4 linked regions of the Homo sapiens genome follow. The protein of the gene in region 1 purifies or fractionates together with the protein of each later gene. This does not show direct contact. Each region holds a gene or a part of one and is shown in the gene's direction. Other genes may lie near its edges.

Region 1 (3,500 bases):
CACCCTGGGATCCTCAAGCCTCCTGGTGGGTGGGGGGCGGGTTGGGTGCTCTGACCCCCTGTTCTTGTCCTCAGGGAGTGGGGAAGGCCAGGGCCAGATTCTGCAGCGCTTCCCAGAGAAGGACTGGGAGGACAACCCATTCCCCCAGGGCATCGAGCTGGTGAGTTGGGGGCGTGCTGAGACGGTGCTGGCAGGTGGGGAGGGCAGGTGGGCACAGCCCTGCCCTTGTCCCTGACTGAGGGGCCTCCACAGTGCCCGGCCCCCCGCTGGGCTAGGGACAAGACAGCAGAGCCTCTGTCGGGGGGTTTGACCGGCTTGGCCGGCGGCCTGTGCGGTGCTCATGTCACTGTGTCATGTTGTCACTCACTCATGATGGTGGGGACTGTTCTCCCATCTCCTGGTCCTTGCCCCAGGTGGGGAGGTCAGAGGCTGTTACTCCCTTCACCCGGAGAGACTGAGGCCCAGGAGGCCACGTGTCCCCAGGGTCTCCAAGCAAGGAGCTGCCTGTGTGTGTTGGAGCCTCCAGGCCTGGTGGTGCAGATGCTGGGGCGGGTGGGCTGGTTCCTGCCACAGGTGTAGGGGGAGGAGCTGACTGCTGAGCCTTCCCTGCAGTTTTGCCAGCCCAGCGGGTGGCAGCTGTGTCCCGAGAGGAATCCACCGACCTTCTTTGTTGCTGTCCTCACCGACATCAACTCCGAGCGCCACTACTGCGCCTGCTTGACCTTCTGGGAGCCAGCGGAGCCTTCACAGGTCAGCTTGGGGCCTCTGGGTACAGCATGAATGAAGCTGCATCCTTGGGCCGTGGCCAACTCCCCCTGCCCCCGTCTCCCCCTGACCCCCAGCAGGAAACGACGCGCGTGGAGGATGCCACAGAGAGGGAGGAAGAGGGGGATGAGGGAGGCCAGACCCACCTGTCTCCCACAGCACCTGCCCCATCTGCCCAGCTGTTTGCACCGAAGACGCTGGTACTGGTGTCGCGACTCGACCACACGGAGGTGTTCAGGGTGAGGCCGGCAGCCGGGGCGGCGAGGCACGACGAGGGTGCTTCCATCGGCTGTCCCACCACTCCCCGCTCTGGTCATTGCAGAACAGCCTTGGCCTCATCTATGCCATCCACGTGGAGGGCCTGAATGTGTGCCTGGAGAACGTGATTGGGAACCTGCTGACGTGCACTGTGCCCCTGGCTGGGGGCTCGCAGGTGAGTTTTGGAGGCAGCTGGTATCTGCACAGCCACAGGCCCTCCTGCTGGGGCCCTGGTAGGTATTTGGAGCCCAGCCAGAGCCACACACAGCTGGAGGCCTTGGATGCTCCCTCTTGCGTCCTCGTGCCACCATTGCCCCCAACAGTCCTGGCCTGCTTACCTGGCCCTCGCACCTGTGCTCTGGGCCTGTGTCGTTCAGCCTCTCTGTCCACTCCTTTGATGGTGTGTGCCTGTCTCTGGATGTTGATGTCAGCTTGTTTGTCTGCTCCCTGCCCTGTGCCTGGGTGTGTTGGAGTGTCTAACCGTGTCTTTCTGCCCGTCTGTCCTGTGCAGCTGGACTCTGTTGAGGAAGGAGCGGTATGGATTCTTTGTTTCTTCCGCCCACCTAGGCCCCATCCCTACCCCCAAGTCAAAAGCAGCCACTCCTGTCCTGAGTTTTCTCTGCAGCTGCTTGGGACAACAGAGGCAGGGCATGGCGTTTCCCTCTTGCCATGTTGCCCATCCCAGCCAGTCCCACCTCGGGTCTGTCAGTACACCAGGGTCTGCCTGGGGACACAGAGCTCTGGGCTGACTCTGGGCTGGCTCTGGCCAAACTACTGAGCCCCGATCCTTTTTTTGCTGCAGAGGACGATCTCTTTGGGGGCTGGTGACCGGCAGGTCATCCAGACTCCACTGGCCGACTCGCTGCCCGTCAGCCGCTGCAGCGTGGCCCTGCTCTTCCGCCAGCTAGGTGAGCCTGTCTGTCCCACCCCCGCATGGCTTCCCCTCGGGGACTGGTAGTTAGGGATGTGGGTTCTCACTCTGCCTGGGTGGGGGCCCAGGGTCCTCTCCAAGCTTCTCTTCTTCCTTTAGGCATCACCAACGTGCTGTCTTTGTTCTGTGCCGCCCTCACGGAGCACAAGGTTCTCTTCCTGTCCCGGAGCTACCAGCGGCTCGCCGATGCCTGTAGGGGCCTCCTGGCACTGCTGTTTCCTCTCAGATACAGGTGACCCCTGCCCGGCCCTCCCAGCCCCTTCTCCTGGCCCCTTTGCCCAGCCGCGTCCCCTGGCTCACTGCATCCTCTGGGGCCTGCACAGCTTCACCTATGTGCCCATCCTGCCGGCTCAGCTGCTGGAGGTCCTCAGCACACCCACGCCCTTCATCATTGGGGTCAACGCGGCCTTCCAGGCAGAGACCCAGGAGCTGGTAAGGGCTGTGCTTTGTGTCCACCTCACGGCCCAGGCCTGCAGGTCCCTGACTGCCGGCTCCCTTGGTCCGCAGCTCGATGTGATTGTTGCTGATCTGGATGGAGGGACGGTCACCATTCCTGAGTGTGTGCACATTCCACCCTTGCCAGAGCCACTGCAGAGTCAGACGCACAGTGTGCTGAGCATGGTGAGGGGCACCATGGGCAAGCGGGAGCCTTGGGGGCCTTTGGGATGTGGCTACCTGGCAGCACGGGGAGCCTAGAGCCGGGGCCAGCGTGCAGCTGCCTGCTCCATTCTGTGCTGGCAGGTCCTGGACCCGGAGCTGGAGTTGGCTGACCTCGCCTTCCCTCCGCCCACGACATCCACCTCCTCCCTGAAGATGCAGGTGGGGGTCGTTGCTGCTCCTGCATGGGGACCCCAGGCACTTAGGCTGCCCCCACTCAGGTCTGCTGCCACTGACACACAGGGCCCCACCCCCAGGCTGGCCCCGGCTCCAGTAGCAGAAGCAGGAGCCTGGGAGCAAAGCAGCTGCCAGCAGTTAGGAGTGGTGGTCGTGAGTGGTGCAGGCGAGGCGGCAGGGGCCCAGCAAGGGGCTGGAACTTGGCGTCTGATCACAGGAGCCCTTGAGGGTGCTGAGCCAGGAGTGCCTTGTCCAGACAGTTTCAGAGGAGCTGGTGGCCCTGAGTGCAGAATGGTGGGAGGGGCAGAAGGATGGGAGCGGGGCAGCTTGGGGTGGGTTGGGGTGTGGAGAAGCTCCTGGGCAGCCTGGGGTGGGGATTGGCAGGACTGGCTCTCACCTGCACTCAGCTCTTCTCCCAGGACAAGGAGCTGCGCGCGGTCTTCCTGCGGCTGTTCGCTCAGCTGCTGCAGGGCTATCGCTGGTGCCTGCACGTCGTGCGCATCCACCCGGAGCCTGTCATCCGCTTCCATAAGGTGGGGTGCCTGGTGGCTGGGCGTGGGGTAGGAGATAAGCGCATGGTGGAGACCCCTGAGGGACCGACCTCCTTCTGTCATCCAGGCAGCCTTCCTGGGCCAGCGTGGGCTGGTAGAGGACGATTTCCTGATGAAGGTGCTGGAGGGCATGGCCTTTGCTGGCTTTGTGTCAGAGCGTG
Region 2 (3,500 bases), on another chromosome or scaffold:
TTAGGAATTTAGTTCAATATAGAATTTTAAACTAATAATTATATCAAAAACATTGCCCTCTTTTAAATAACAACAGAAAAATATTTACAAGTAGAATGAGAAAATGAACTACATGACTAGTAACTAAAAATATTTTATATATATATATAATTTTTTTTTTTTACTTCTCTAGAACTTTGCTGCTCAGTATGATGGAAAAGGAGTTGGACTTGGCCCTGGACCAATGGTATGCTTATCTGTTTATCTTAGCCAAAAAAATTGCTAAATAAATCATTCATTTTATGTCACATTTTACCACGCCATTTATTTAGCTACCTAAGTTAACACTCAATACTTAGATTATATAAAAACAACTCTTTTTGTTTTCAAATTTATGAAAACATAAGTTAAGGAGTTCACTTTTCTTTACAAAAGAAAGATTAATTGATCTTTTATGATTATATGATCTTTTTGATTATATGATCCTCATTAAGATAGATCATATACTTATGTCCAAGAAATAATCTTTGGACATAGTAACCATAACTTGGGCAAATCAATTTAATTTAAAACAGTAATCACTCTGATTAATTTTTTAATATTCTTTAACATTGCTTAGAATTTTAAGCAACACTTAGAGGCATAGAACTATTTATTAAGTTCTCTGAACTTGTTGGAAAGGATCAACAAGTTCTATCTAGTCCAGCTAACTCATTTTAAAATGGGAGAGTTTAAGCCCTTTTCTCAAAGTCATCCAGGTAACTAATGACATAACTAGAACTAGATGCCAGGCAAGATGTCTAATATTTGCTTACATCATGGTTTATGTACCTAGTCCTTGAATAAACCACTCATTTAGTCAACAGATATTAATCAGATGCCTTCAATGGGCCCTAAACTGTATTAGGAACTGGGGAAATTACAAGGAATATGACAGATTCTGATCCTTCCTCAAGGAGTTAACAATATAGGAAATGTTTCTTTTTCTGAATTTTGACCAAAAAAATCCTTTTTTAGTCTATTGATTGTAAATCTATATAGAAGAGAGTATGAGTAAAAATCTAGCATTTATGTCACTCAGTACAAATATTCAGCACCATACCCTATCAGTGGAGCACCGCTTAGAAACATTCCCTATATGATGATGATGATGATGATGACTATTAACAAATGAAGCTTCTAACAAGCATTAGAGAGAAGTTTGAAGGGAAAAATGCTAATACGAGCATGCAAAATGTATACTAGCATATATGAAATAGAGGGGAAAACTGCCAGAAGTCAAAGTGTTAGGTTGATTAAGCACTACAGAATTTAATGTATACACACACACGCAATTTAGTGATTTTAATTAATTGTTTCAAAACAAAGGTATTTATCTGCCCAAAGTCAACAAGGTCTTTAAAATGTAAATTTTACCTGGGCAGTGCACTTAGTGCTCTATCTTCAAAAGAAGATGTTCTGCTGGAGCTAATGGCCCACAGTAAGCTAATATACTCTAAGGGTGAGATAATATTTTCTGTAAATTAAAACTCCCACTTGAGAAATAATGTACCTTTAATTGACGACTTCTAATTCCCTAATTTTTTCTGGTAGTTTAAAATGTTCATATCTGAAATGAAAAAGTAGAGTGTTTCTTTTGGCTTTGTTTATATTGGATTTTTGAAATTAGCTGTTTCAGCTAATGCTGGACATTAGTCAGTTTTAAAGCAGTACCTACATCTCAAGAAGAAGCAAGGGGGCGGAAAGTAAAGAGCTACTAAATGTCATTTTTAAAAAGCCCACTAAGCTGGGAAAATTAATATGGATTTCAGATACCCCTGTTTTCGGAACATCTGTCTTGGCATAAAGCAGAGTATTTTACTTTGAAATATCAGTGAAATATAATTTAAGCTTGCACATCCACACACATGCACAGACATATGTAATCAACAGATATCTGTTTCACAAATAGGGAAGATAGGCAGCAATAAAGTATTAAAATAATTTCCATGTTGGAAAATCAATAACTATAAAACCCCACAGGGTTCTTCTCTGAATTAATGAGTAATCACAGCCTCCATGAAATACACTACATTTTATGTAAATGAAATTGTTGCAAATACATGAAAAAATAAATATAATTAGAAATTCATGATGTCAAAGAAAATTATTTTTTAATGTATGCCTAAAAAGCTATTGTGATGGAAAAGTGACAGTTTCTTTTAATGTCAGAGCAATTTCTAAAACCAAATGAATAATTCTTATAATTAAAATGACATACATTTTAGATAAAATCCATGTTATTTCACTCTAGGCATTAATACAGTAAGGTAGGTTTGACTGCAGAGTCCCCACAGCTGATGTCATGAACAAATTACTTGAGACTGGTACATGAAATATTTTCAGCATTATGAGGAACAGACCCTACGGATGAGCTTACACAGGCACTGATTACTGCAAAGAGGAGTCAAGAAAGTGTATTTAGCTTACAAACTATTAACAGCCTGTTTTACCCTACTTTTGTGCTATGGAAACAACAAAGGGGAAAACAATCTTCCATCATTTGGGCCATATTTTCAACAATAATATCATATAATAGACTCTTCCAGAAGGCTGTTTCAATAATGTTTTATTTTTCCTTCACCCCTCATTACATCCACTTTTGTTTGACATTTTCATCAGTCACCAATAACCCTTAGAGGAGCGATAAGGTTATAACAAACTTCTCTCTAATCATTAAGAAGGACTTTTGATTCTTTTCAATTTATGTCCTTTGTGGCAATAAAAATACCAATTTCTTAGCTAAATATGACATAGGAAGATGACATATGATCAAAGATATCCAAATGGACATGCTTCATCTGCTGTATAGAAGACAATTGTATATTCTGCACTTCTGCAAAGACTGATTCACTTCATTGCATCAGAACAATCTCAATATGCCCAATTGTGCACAACTTTAAGGAACCTATCTGCCCCGTCTAATTCTCATTGATTTCTGTTGATAAGGATTGGGAGAAAAGGAAAAGCAAAGGGAGAGAACTAGTGCAGGAAGTTTGAGTCCTTAAATTCTTCCTTGGGAGGAATAAAAACTATGGAATCAAACCACAACAATGGCACTGCTAAGTTGGTCATATCTGACCCCAGCCAACACCATGACAACTTATCAGTGCTAACTGTTGATATATCTGCTTTCTTTACAGGGCTTAATGGGACCTAGAGGCCCACCTGGTGCAGCTGGAGCCCCAGTAAGTACTGAAAGCTTGTAATGCCTCTTATGTAAAAAGACAGAGAATTAAGAAATAAAGGCTTGGAGTATGACATTCTTTTTTTCTTTTAGGGCCCTCAAGGTTTCCAAGGACCTGCTGGTGAGCCTGGTGAACCTGGTCAAACTGTGAGTACATTTTTCCACCTTTGTGATAAGTTTTTTTCCAGGAAGTTTATGAATATAACCTTAGTGAAATGATGGGTCTCCCATTTTCTTAGGGTCCTGCAGGTGCTCGTGGTCCAGCTGGCCCTCCTGGCAAGGCTGGTGAAGATGT
Region 3 (3,500 bases), on another chromosome or scaffold:
TTATAAGATTGTTGTGAGATAACATAAGTAAAACACCAAGCATGTAGGTAGGTACTAGACATACAGGAGATCTTCAGTAAGTTGCAATTGCTATTTTTGTTGCTATTTATGTTCCTGTTGCTTGGGAAAGTTTTCTCCTCACTGTATGAAATGAAACTTAAAAAAAAAAAAAAAAGTTGTCCTAAAATTACCTTTACCAAATTGCAACCTCTCCCTTTGTCTTAGTTTCCTCATCTGTGAAGTGAAAAGGTTGGACCAGAATATCTCTGAGATTTCTTCCAGCTCAAGTGTTGTTATTCTGAGTTACTCTTTAGTTCTTCAGTTGCCTTTTCTCCAAGCTAAACAGCCTAAATTCCTTTTGACCTTTCCACTAGGACCTTTTATTCATCCCTTTGATCATTCCTGTGGTTCTTTTTTTGGACGTTCTCCAAAGTTGTCCTCTTTGAAAAAAAAAAAAAATCCACCTAGTTTTTATTGAGTAATGACTTCATGCCCAGAATGGTGTTGAGTATTGGGACAGAAAATGACAGACATATAAGATGGGCTGTGCCCTGGAGCTTATAGTTGCTAAAAGGAGCAGACACACACGCCCATGGTATTCAAGAATCGCTTGAGTTTGTCCCAGCACCCCCTTTCTACTTCTCTGCCTCTGTCATTCTTGTTTTTTTATTTTTTATTTTTATTTTTTGAGACAGAGCCTTGCTCTGTCACCCAGGCTGGAGTGCAGTGGCATGATCTTGGCTCACTGTAACCTCCGCCTTCTGGGTTCAAACGATTCTCCTGCCTCAGCCTCCTGAGTAGCTGGGATTACAGGCACACACCACCATGCCTGGCTAATTTTTGTTTTTTTTTGGAGGGGGGTAGAGATGGTGGTTTGCCATGTTGCCCAGGCTGGTCTCTAACTCCTGGACTCAGGCAACCCTCCCGCCTCGGCCTCCCAAAGTGTTGGGATTACAGGCGTCAGCCACCACGCCCAGCCTATTGATATTTTCTAATCTAAGCAAAGGAAAAATTGAGGTCTTTAAGGGTCGAGTGAATTTTTTGCGGGAAGTGCAAGGACAAGAGTGGGTAGTACAAAAAAGTAAATGTGTGTGTTTATAAGTGTGTAGGTGTGGAGAAACTAGATGTCCTTGATACTAGATACATAGGTACTTTAGTAGTTCAATATAGTGTGAAATGTTAGCTAATGGTAGGATAGAAATACAGTAGATGGTAGGACAGCCACAGAAGGAATCTACTGGTTACTCCTAGAGCTGTGAGGAAAAAGAAGGATCTAATAGAACCTAATAGAAGAGGACCCAGCCCAAAGCACAGCTTGTGGAAACTGCTGTTGGCTGTGTTCTTTGAACCAGTTTAAGTGCTTTGTGTTTTAGGTGGACCATTGCATTGATGTATGTGATGTAATGGGGAGGTGTTCTGTGTTTAGTCTGTGTTTTACAAAGCCTGCTTGATACTTATGAATTAAAGCCTAAGTGTCCTTGGGACTGACCAGAAGAATCCTGACTAATTTTTTAATATCCTCGTTTGGAAAGAAAAGTAAATAGTAACATTCCACAATTAGAAATTCTATTTTTTCTTCGTTAGGGTTAAAGAAAAAAAATCATTTTCATTCCATGTGTTCCATTTCTTCTTGGAATAAACCAGAATTGAAGAGTCAGCCCTCTTCCTGCTCCCTCTCACCCTTTTTTATTGTAAAGGTAATATAGCATTAGTGAGAGTTTGGAAACTAGATTTTTTTTTTTTTGCCAGAATTATTTTGGCTATAGATTCTTAAATTTATCCATAATTCTAACTTAACAAAATAACTCTTTGGTTTCTTGTGTGTTCTTTCTAAACTTGCCCATATGCAGTCTACGCAGTCATGTTTTACCTATAATTTTATACATATTATAAGCATTTAACATTTTTCATGTTGTTAACAATAATAATAATCTCTGAGTAAACCGTGCAGTCTGAGTGATGATGATGTGTCAGTGTAGGTTTGTTCTTTGTATCAAATGCACCACTCTGGTATGGGATGTTGATGGCGGGGGAGGCTGTGCATGTGGGGGAAGGGGTATGTGGGAACTCTGCCCTTTCCAGGAAGTTTTGCTATGAGCCTAAAACTGCTGTTAAAAAAAAAAAAAAAAGTCTATTTAAAAAAAAAAAAATCCCAGCCAGGCACCCAGGCTCATGCCTGTAGTCCCATTTTGGGAGTTCAAGGCATTTTGGGAGTTCAAGGCAGGAAGATCACTCACTTGAGCCCAGGAGTTTGAGGCCAGCCTGGGCAACATATGGAGACACTGTCTCTACAAAAATACAAAAATCAGCAGGGTGTGATGACAGATGCCTGTAGTCCCAGCAACTCAGGAGGCTGAGGCAGGAGAATTGCTTGAGCCGGGGAGGTGGAGGTTGCAGTCAGCTGAGATTGCACCACTGCACTCCAGCCTGGGCCATAGAGCCAGACCTTGTCTCAAAAAACAAAAACAAAACAACAACAACAAAAACAAAACAAAAAACCCTCAATGGATACCTGATTTTCCACTGAGTGACTGAACTTTCATTAACCATCTCCTTAATGGACTTTCCTCCCAGTTTTCATTCTGTATAGTATCTGGCACATAATAACGGCTATTTTATTGCCAAATTGTTTTTAAATGCAATGTGAACATGAAAAAGGTGGCGATTGTGATCCAAACAATAATGCTGGTGATGATAGTGATGATGGAAACTTCTGCTATTTATTGAGTGCCTATTTTGTGAAAGGCACTTTATATATCTTACCTTCTTTCATCCTTACTGCAACTGAGGTTCAGTAAGTTTTCCATGGCCACTGAGCTTGTCGTAGGCGACAGAAGCAGGTTTTAAACCTAAAAGTGGCTGGTGTCTTTATTTTTTTCCCCATATACGGCACTGCTGCCCATATTTAAATAGATAGATACTACAGTTCTGTTTCCTAGAATTGACTTAGATGTAGTTCCAGGTTTCCAGGGCTGAATTCTTTTTTTTTTTTTTTTTTTTTTTTTTTGAGACCGATTCTTGCTGTGTTGCCCAGGCTGGAGTGCAGTGGCATGATATTGGTTCACTGCAACCTTTGCCTCCTCAGTTCAAGCTATTCTCCTGCCTCAGCCTCCTGAGTAACTGGGATTACAGGCATGTGCCACCACACCTGGCTAATTTTTTGTATTTTTAGTAGAGATGGGGTTTCACCATATTGGCCAGGCTCTCAAACTCCTGACCTCAAGTGATCCATCCACCTCGGCCTCCCAAAGTGCTGGGATTACAGGTGTGAGCCACGCCACCTGGCCTTTGAATTCACTCTCTCTCTCTCTTTTTTTTTTTTTTTACAGACAGGGTCTTGCTCTTGCTGAGTCGCCCAGGTTGAAGTGCAGTGGTGTGATGATAGCTCCCTGCAGCCTCGATCTTCTGGGCTCAAGTGATCCTCCCACCTCAGCCTCCCAAGCAGCTTAAGACTATAGGCATGCACCACCACACCCAGCCAATTAAAAAAAAATTTGTAG
Region 4 (4,300 bases), on another chromosome or scaffold:
ACACCATGGTTCTATGGATGTAGGTAGGCAGTCCCAATTATTAAAAATGGTCACAGAGACATGGCACAGGTGAAGACATCTGGAGAGTCACTAAAAGCAAGACCTGGAGATTGTGGGTTTGAAATTCAGTTTCTGAGGCCAGGCTCGATGGCTCATGCCCACAGTCTCAGTGCTTTGGGAGGCCAAAGCAGGAGAGTCTCTTGAGGCCAGGAGTTCATGAGTCTATAGCTATGCAGGAGGATCGAACCGAAGAGTTCAAGGCTGTAGTGAGCTATGATCACACCACTGCATTCTGAGCCTGGGTGACAGAGCAAGACCTTGATTTAAAAAAAGAAATTCAGGGGCTGGGCGCCGTGGCTCACGCCTATAATCCTAGCACTTTGGGAGGCTGAGGTGGGAAGACACGTCAAGAGTTCAAGGCCAGCCTGGGCAACATACTGAGTCCTCGTTTCTACAAAATATACAAAAATTGGCCAGGTGCGGTGGCTCACGCCTGTAGTCCCAGCACTTTGGGAGGCCAAGGCGGGCGGATCACGAGGTCAGGAGTTTGAGACCAGCCTGGCCAACATGGTGAAACCCTGTTTCTACTAAAGATACAAAAAATTAGCTGGGCGTGGTGGCATGCGCCTCTAGTCCCATCTACTCGGTAGGCTGAGGCAGGAAAATCTCTTGAACCCGGGAGACGGAGGTTGCAGTGAGCCGAGATCGCACCATTGCACTCCAGCCAGGGCGAGACTCCGTCTCAATAAATAAATAAAAATTAGCCAGGCGTGGTGCCGCGTGCCTGTAGTTCCAGCTACTCGGAGGATCGCTTGAGCCGAGCGGTGATCGTGCCACTGCACTCCAGCCTGCGCGACAGCGCAAGACCCTGTCTCAAAACAAAGCAAAACAAAAAAGAAAAAAAAATTCTTGGTAACTGAGCACTGCTTGTCCAGCCCATTGAGTTTCTGTAGACAAATTGTAGGAACTGGCACAGCAAACTGGCCACAAAGACGTTAGGGGCGTGGACACCAGCTGCTTGAGCTGCCTGCTGTCCCAGACTCCCGTATGTCATCGCGCAGCGTGGGATTTTGCGGCTTCCTGACAGCCCAGGCTGTCGCTTGACTTGATCTTGGGTTTCACCAAGCCACGAAGGACTAGCGTCCCTCTCTCCTATCCCAAGGGCATTAAGCCTGTCTGGATGAAGTAGGAGAGGAAAGATTTACACGCAGTTCTCAACTTTACGTGACGTGACTAGGGAGGGAATTGACGGTCGCACCGTCTACCTAGCCCAAACGGGGTCACAGCAGGACAAGGAAGTAGCCGATCTCCCAGATGCGGTCTCTTCGCTCCGCTCCACCCGCACCAGCAGCGGCCCACCCACCTCTCCTGTAAGAGGAAGAACGTCCCGGAGACACTTCCGGCCCCGCCCCCCGAGGCGGAAGCGGAGTGCCAGGCTACTCCTCCCGCAGTGTGGGTGGTTCCGAGGCTGACTACCCTGCGGCGGCGCGGCTCGCAGTCCTTCTCAGCATGGACCGCACTTGTGAGGAGAGGCCCGCTGAGGATGGGAGCGACGAGGAGGACCCAGACTCCATGGAAGCCCCAACCCGGATCCGGGACACTCCGGAAGACATCGTGCTGGAAGCTCCGGCTAGTGGGCTGGCGTTCCATCCGGCCCGTGACCTACTGGCTGCAGGGGACGTGGACGGGGACGTGTTCGTGTGAGAGCGGGGCAGGGCCGGGGCGCCGGGTCTGGAAGCTTCCCGGGGGTGGACCTGGGAACAGGAGAGATGAGAGAAAGTTGCAGGGAGACAAATTTTGCAAGATTCTTTGGGTCCAATTTATTCAGTAACATTCGGCTCTTCTATCACACCAATCTGTTGAAAGAACTGGAATGTCGTGACAGAGCCCAGATACCGTAGTAGGCCAAAAAGCCCTTTAAGGCCTTGTTATTTCCCACCGATTATTATTTATTTACTTACCTATTTATTTTTGAGACGGAGTCTCGCTCTGTCGCCGAGGCTGGAGTGCAGTGGCGCGATCTGGGCTCACTGCAACCTCCCCCTTCCGGGTTCAAGCAGTTCTCTTCCTCAGCCTCCCGAGTAGCTGGGATTATAAGCGCCCGCCACCACGCCCGGCTAATTTTTTTTGTATTTGTAGTAGAGACGGGGTTTCACCATCTTGGCCAGGCTGGTCTTGAACTCCTGACCTCGTGATCCACCTGCCTTCCTCCCAGAGTGCTGGGATTACAGGCGTAAACCACCGTGCCCGGACTCCTACCGGATTATTATATTGTGCCCGAGACAGGCTCAGCAGGCCCCTTTAAGTGATTTTTCAAACCACAAATCTTGGCTCACGCCTGTAATACCCGCACTTTGGGAGGCCGAGGTGGGCGGGTCACCTGAGGTTGGAGCTCGAGACCAGCCTGTTCAACATGGTGAAACCCCGTCTCTACTAAAAATACAAAAATTAGCCCGGTGTGGTGGCGCGGGCCTGTAATCCCAGCTACACGGGAGGCTGAGGCAGAAGAATCACTTGGATTCGGGCGGTGGAGGTTGCAGTGAGCCAAGATCGTGCCACTGCACTCCAGCTTGGACAATAGAGTGAGACACTCCCTTGATTAAAACCCTTCAATGGTCTGCTTTTAGGATTTAGTACAAATTTCTCAATCCTGCCTTCAACGCCCTGACCATCTGTGCTCATTCATCCATACCTTTTAAAAATACGTCTTGGGCCGGGCGTGGTGGCTCATGCCTGTAATCCCAGCACTTTGGGAGACCAAGGTGGGGTATCACCTGAGGTCAGGAGTTGGAGACCAGCCTGGCCAACATGGTGAAATCCTGTCTCTACTAAAAATAGAAAAATTAGCTGGGTGTGGTGGCGGGCACCTGTAATCCCAGCTTCTCGGGAGGCTGAGGCAGGAGAATCGCTTGAACCTGGGAGGTGGAGGTGGCAGTGAGCCGAGATCGTGCCATTGCACTCCAGCCTGGGCAACAAGAGCAAAACTCCATCTCAAAAAAAAATCTCGAAACCTCAGCCCATTTGCATGTGCTATTCTGTCCGGAAAACTCCTTTCCCCTCACTTTTACCTACTATCTCTGAGTTTCCAGGATCTCTTCCCTCTTCCTCTCTCCCCAGACTAAAATTGGTTACCTGTTAGATGCTGCCATGGCACCAGGTGCCATGGTACCTTTCCCTTAATAATGAATGGTTGGTAACCATATGTCCATTTGTGTAATTATTTGAATGCTGTCTCCTTCACTAATGTTTTTCAAACGTCTTTGACCTTGCCTCACAGAGAAATACCTTTTACATTATATATGATGCTCTGTGATACAATTGCTGATTTTATTCTATTATTGTGTACATGTACACAAAATGCTGATCGTAGCTTACTAGTCCGTTATATGACTAGAATGTGAAAAAACACTGTTCTGGAGTGTAATCTGTCATCGGTTTTGTTCTCTATTTTATCTCCAACCTCTAGTCTAGGGTAGATGCTCAACACATGTTTGATTTTGAACAAAAGATACAGGTTAGAGGCAGTGGAAAAGTTGAAGATGTTATGCTTATCAGATTTACTTAATGAATTTAAACCTCAACCCCTCATTAGCTGTAATGGCCTTGAGCGTGTTAACTTCTGTATTTTCATCTTTGAAAGGGGGAATTATACCTACCCTTGCAGAGGGGACAAGTTTGCAGTACAGCACCTAAGCAGCTCTTCAACAAATGTAGGTTCCCTTCTACTACTATCCATATTTATGGTGCCAGGCACTTGGGAGTTGCCCTAGACATCCACCTTTCTTCACATTCCACACAACTTTGTTGCTTCCCTTGTCTTAAAAAAGGTTCTGGAGGAAAATTCTTGGTTCTCCCCTTCCCCACCCTCAGCCATGACTATTGTGAAAAGGTTCCTTTTCCGAGGATTAAATTCAAACTTCTGCTTGGCTCATGTGGTCTCATGCCCACCCCAGCCCATCTTTCTAGATTCAGTCATGCTACTCTCCTGCTACAAGGAACCCTCCTCATTCCTTATCTCTGCTGCCTCCAGTATCTGGCCCTTGCTCTCTGCCAGGCAAATTCTACTCTTGTATGATCCAACCCACATGTCACCACCTTAGCTTTCCAGGGCTCTCTTCTCCCTTCCCAAGTATTCATTCAATTTGTGAATGTTTATTAAGCTACTTTTTCACGTTCAGCACTGGGATAGAGAAAATGAGCAGGCTCAGTTCTGCCTACCTGGAACTCACTGGCAATTAAGCATGTATTCATTCTGCCCTTTTTGAGGATCTGCTCTGAGGCAGGCACTTGGGGGTATTCC

The links. The genes of interacting proteins can lie anywhere in the genome.
Region 2: the proteins of SBF1 (region 1) and COL1A2 purify together in Homo sapiens (affinity purification with mass spectrometry; 2 studies listed by BioGRID and IntAct, with this or other methods). This does not show direct contact.
Region 3: the proteins of SBF1 (region 1) and UQCC1 purify together in Homo sapiens (affinity purification with mass spectrometry, with the first as the bait; one large-scale study listed by BioGRID). This does not show direct contact.
Region 4: the proteins of SBF1 (region 1) and WDR55 purify together in Homo sapiens (affinity purification with mass spectrometry; 2 studies listed by BioGRID and IntAct, with this or other methods). This does not show direct contact.

The regions. Positions count from the first base shown.
Region 1 is NC_000022.11:50,465,036-50,468,535, reverse strand, and holds part of SBF1 (myotubularin-related protein 5), read left to right. Parts: intron 1-74; coding exon 75-160; intron 161-612; coding exon 613-750; intron 751-842; coding exon of another isoform or gene 843-845; coding exon 846-1,004; intron 1,005-1,087; coding exon 1,088-1,198; intron 1,199-1,825; coding exon 1,826-1,931; intron 1,932-2,053; coding exon 2,054-2,186; intron 2,187-2,277; coding exon 2,278-2,386; intron 2,387-2,461; coding exon 2,462-2,575; intron 2,576-2,695; coding exon 2,696-2,773; intron 2,774-3,207; coding exon 3,208-3,321; intron 3,322-3,406; coding exon 3,407-3,500. UniProt on the Homo sapiens protein: Acts as an adapter for the phosphatase MTMR2 to regulate MTMR2 catalytic activity and subcellular location. Promotes the exchange of GDP to GTP, converting inactive GDP-bound Rab proteins into their active GTP-bound form.
Region 2 is NC_000007.14:94,401,395-94,404,894, forward strand, and holds part of COL1A2 (collagen alpha-2(I) chain precursor), read left to right. Parts: intron 1-172; coding exon 173-226; intron 227-3,161; coding exon 3,162-3,206; intron 3,207-3,298; coding exon 3,299-3,352; intron 3,353-3,444; coding exon 3,445-3,498; intron 3,499-3,500. UniProt on the Homo sapiens protein: Type I collagen is a member of group I collagen (fibrillar forming collagen).
Region 3 is NC_000020.11:35,384,474-35,387,973, reverse strand, and holds part of UQCC1 (ubiquinol-cytochrome c reductase complex assembly factor 1), read left to right. Parts: intron 1-3,500. UniProt on the Homo sapiens protein: Required for the assembly of the ubiquinol-cytochrome c reductase complex (mitochondrial respiratory chain complex III or cytochrome b-c1 complex). Involved in cytochrome b translation and/or stability.
Region 4 is NC_000005.10:140,663,404-140,667,703, forward strand, and holds the start of WDR55 (WD repeat-containing protein 55), read left to right. Parts: upstream 1-1,500; 5' UTR 1,501-1,509; coding exon 1,510-1,700; exon of another isoform or gene 1,701-1,754; intron 1,755-1,961; exon of another isoform or gene 1,962-2,034; intron 2,035-3,640; exon of another isoform or gene 3,641-3,710; intron 3,711-4,300. UniProt on the Homo sapiens protein: Nucleolar protein that acts as a modulator of rRNA synthesis. Plays a central role during organogenesis.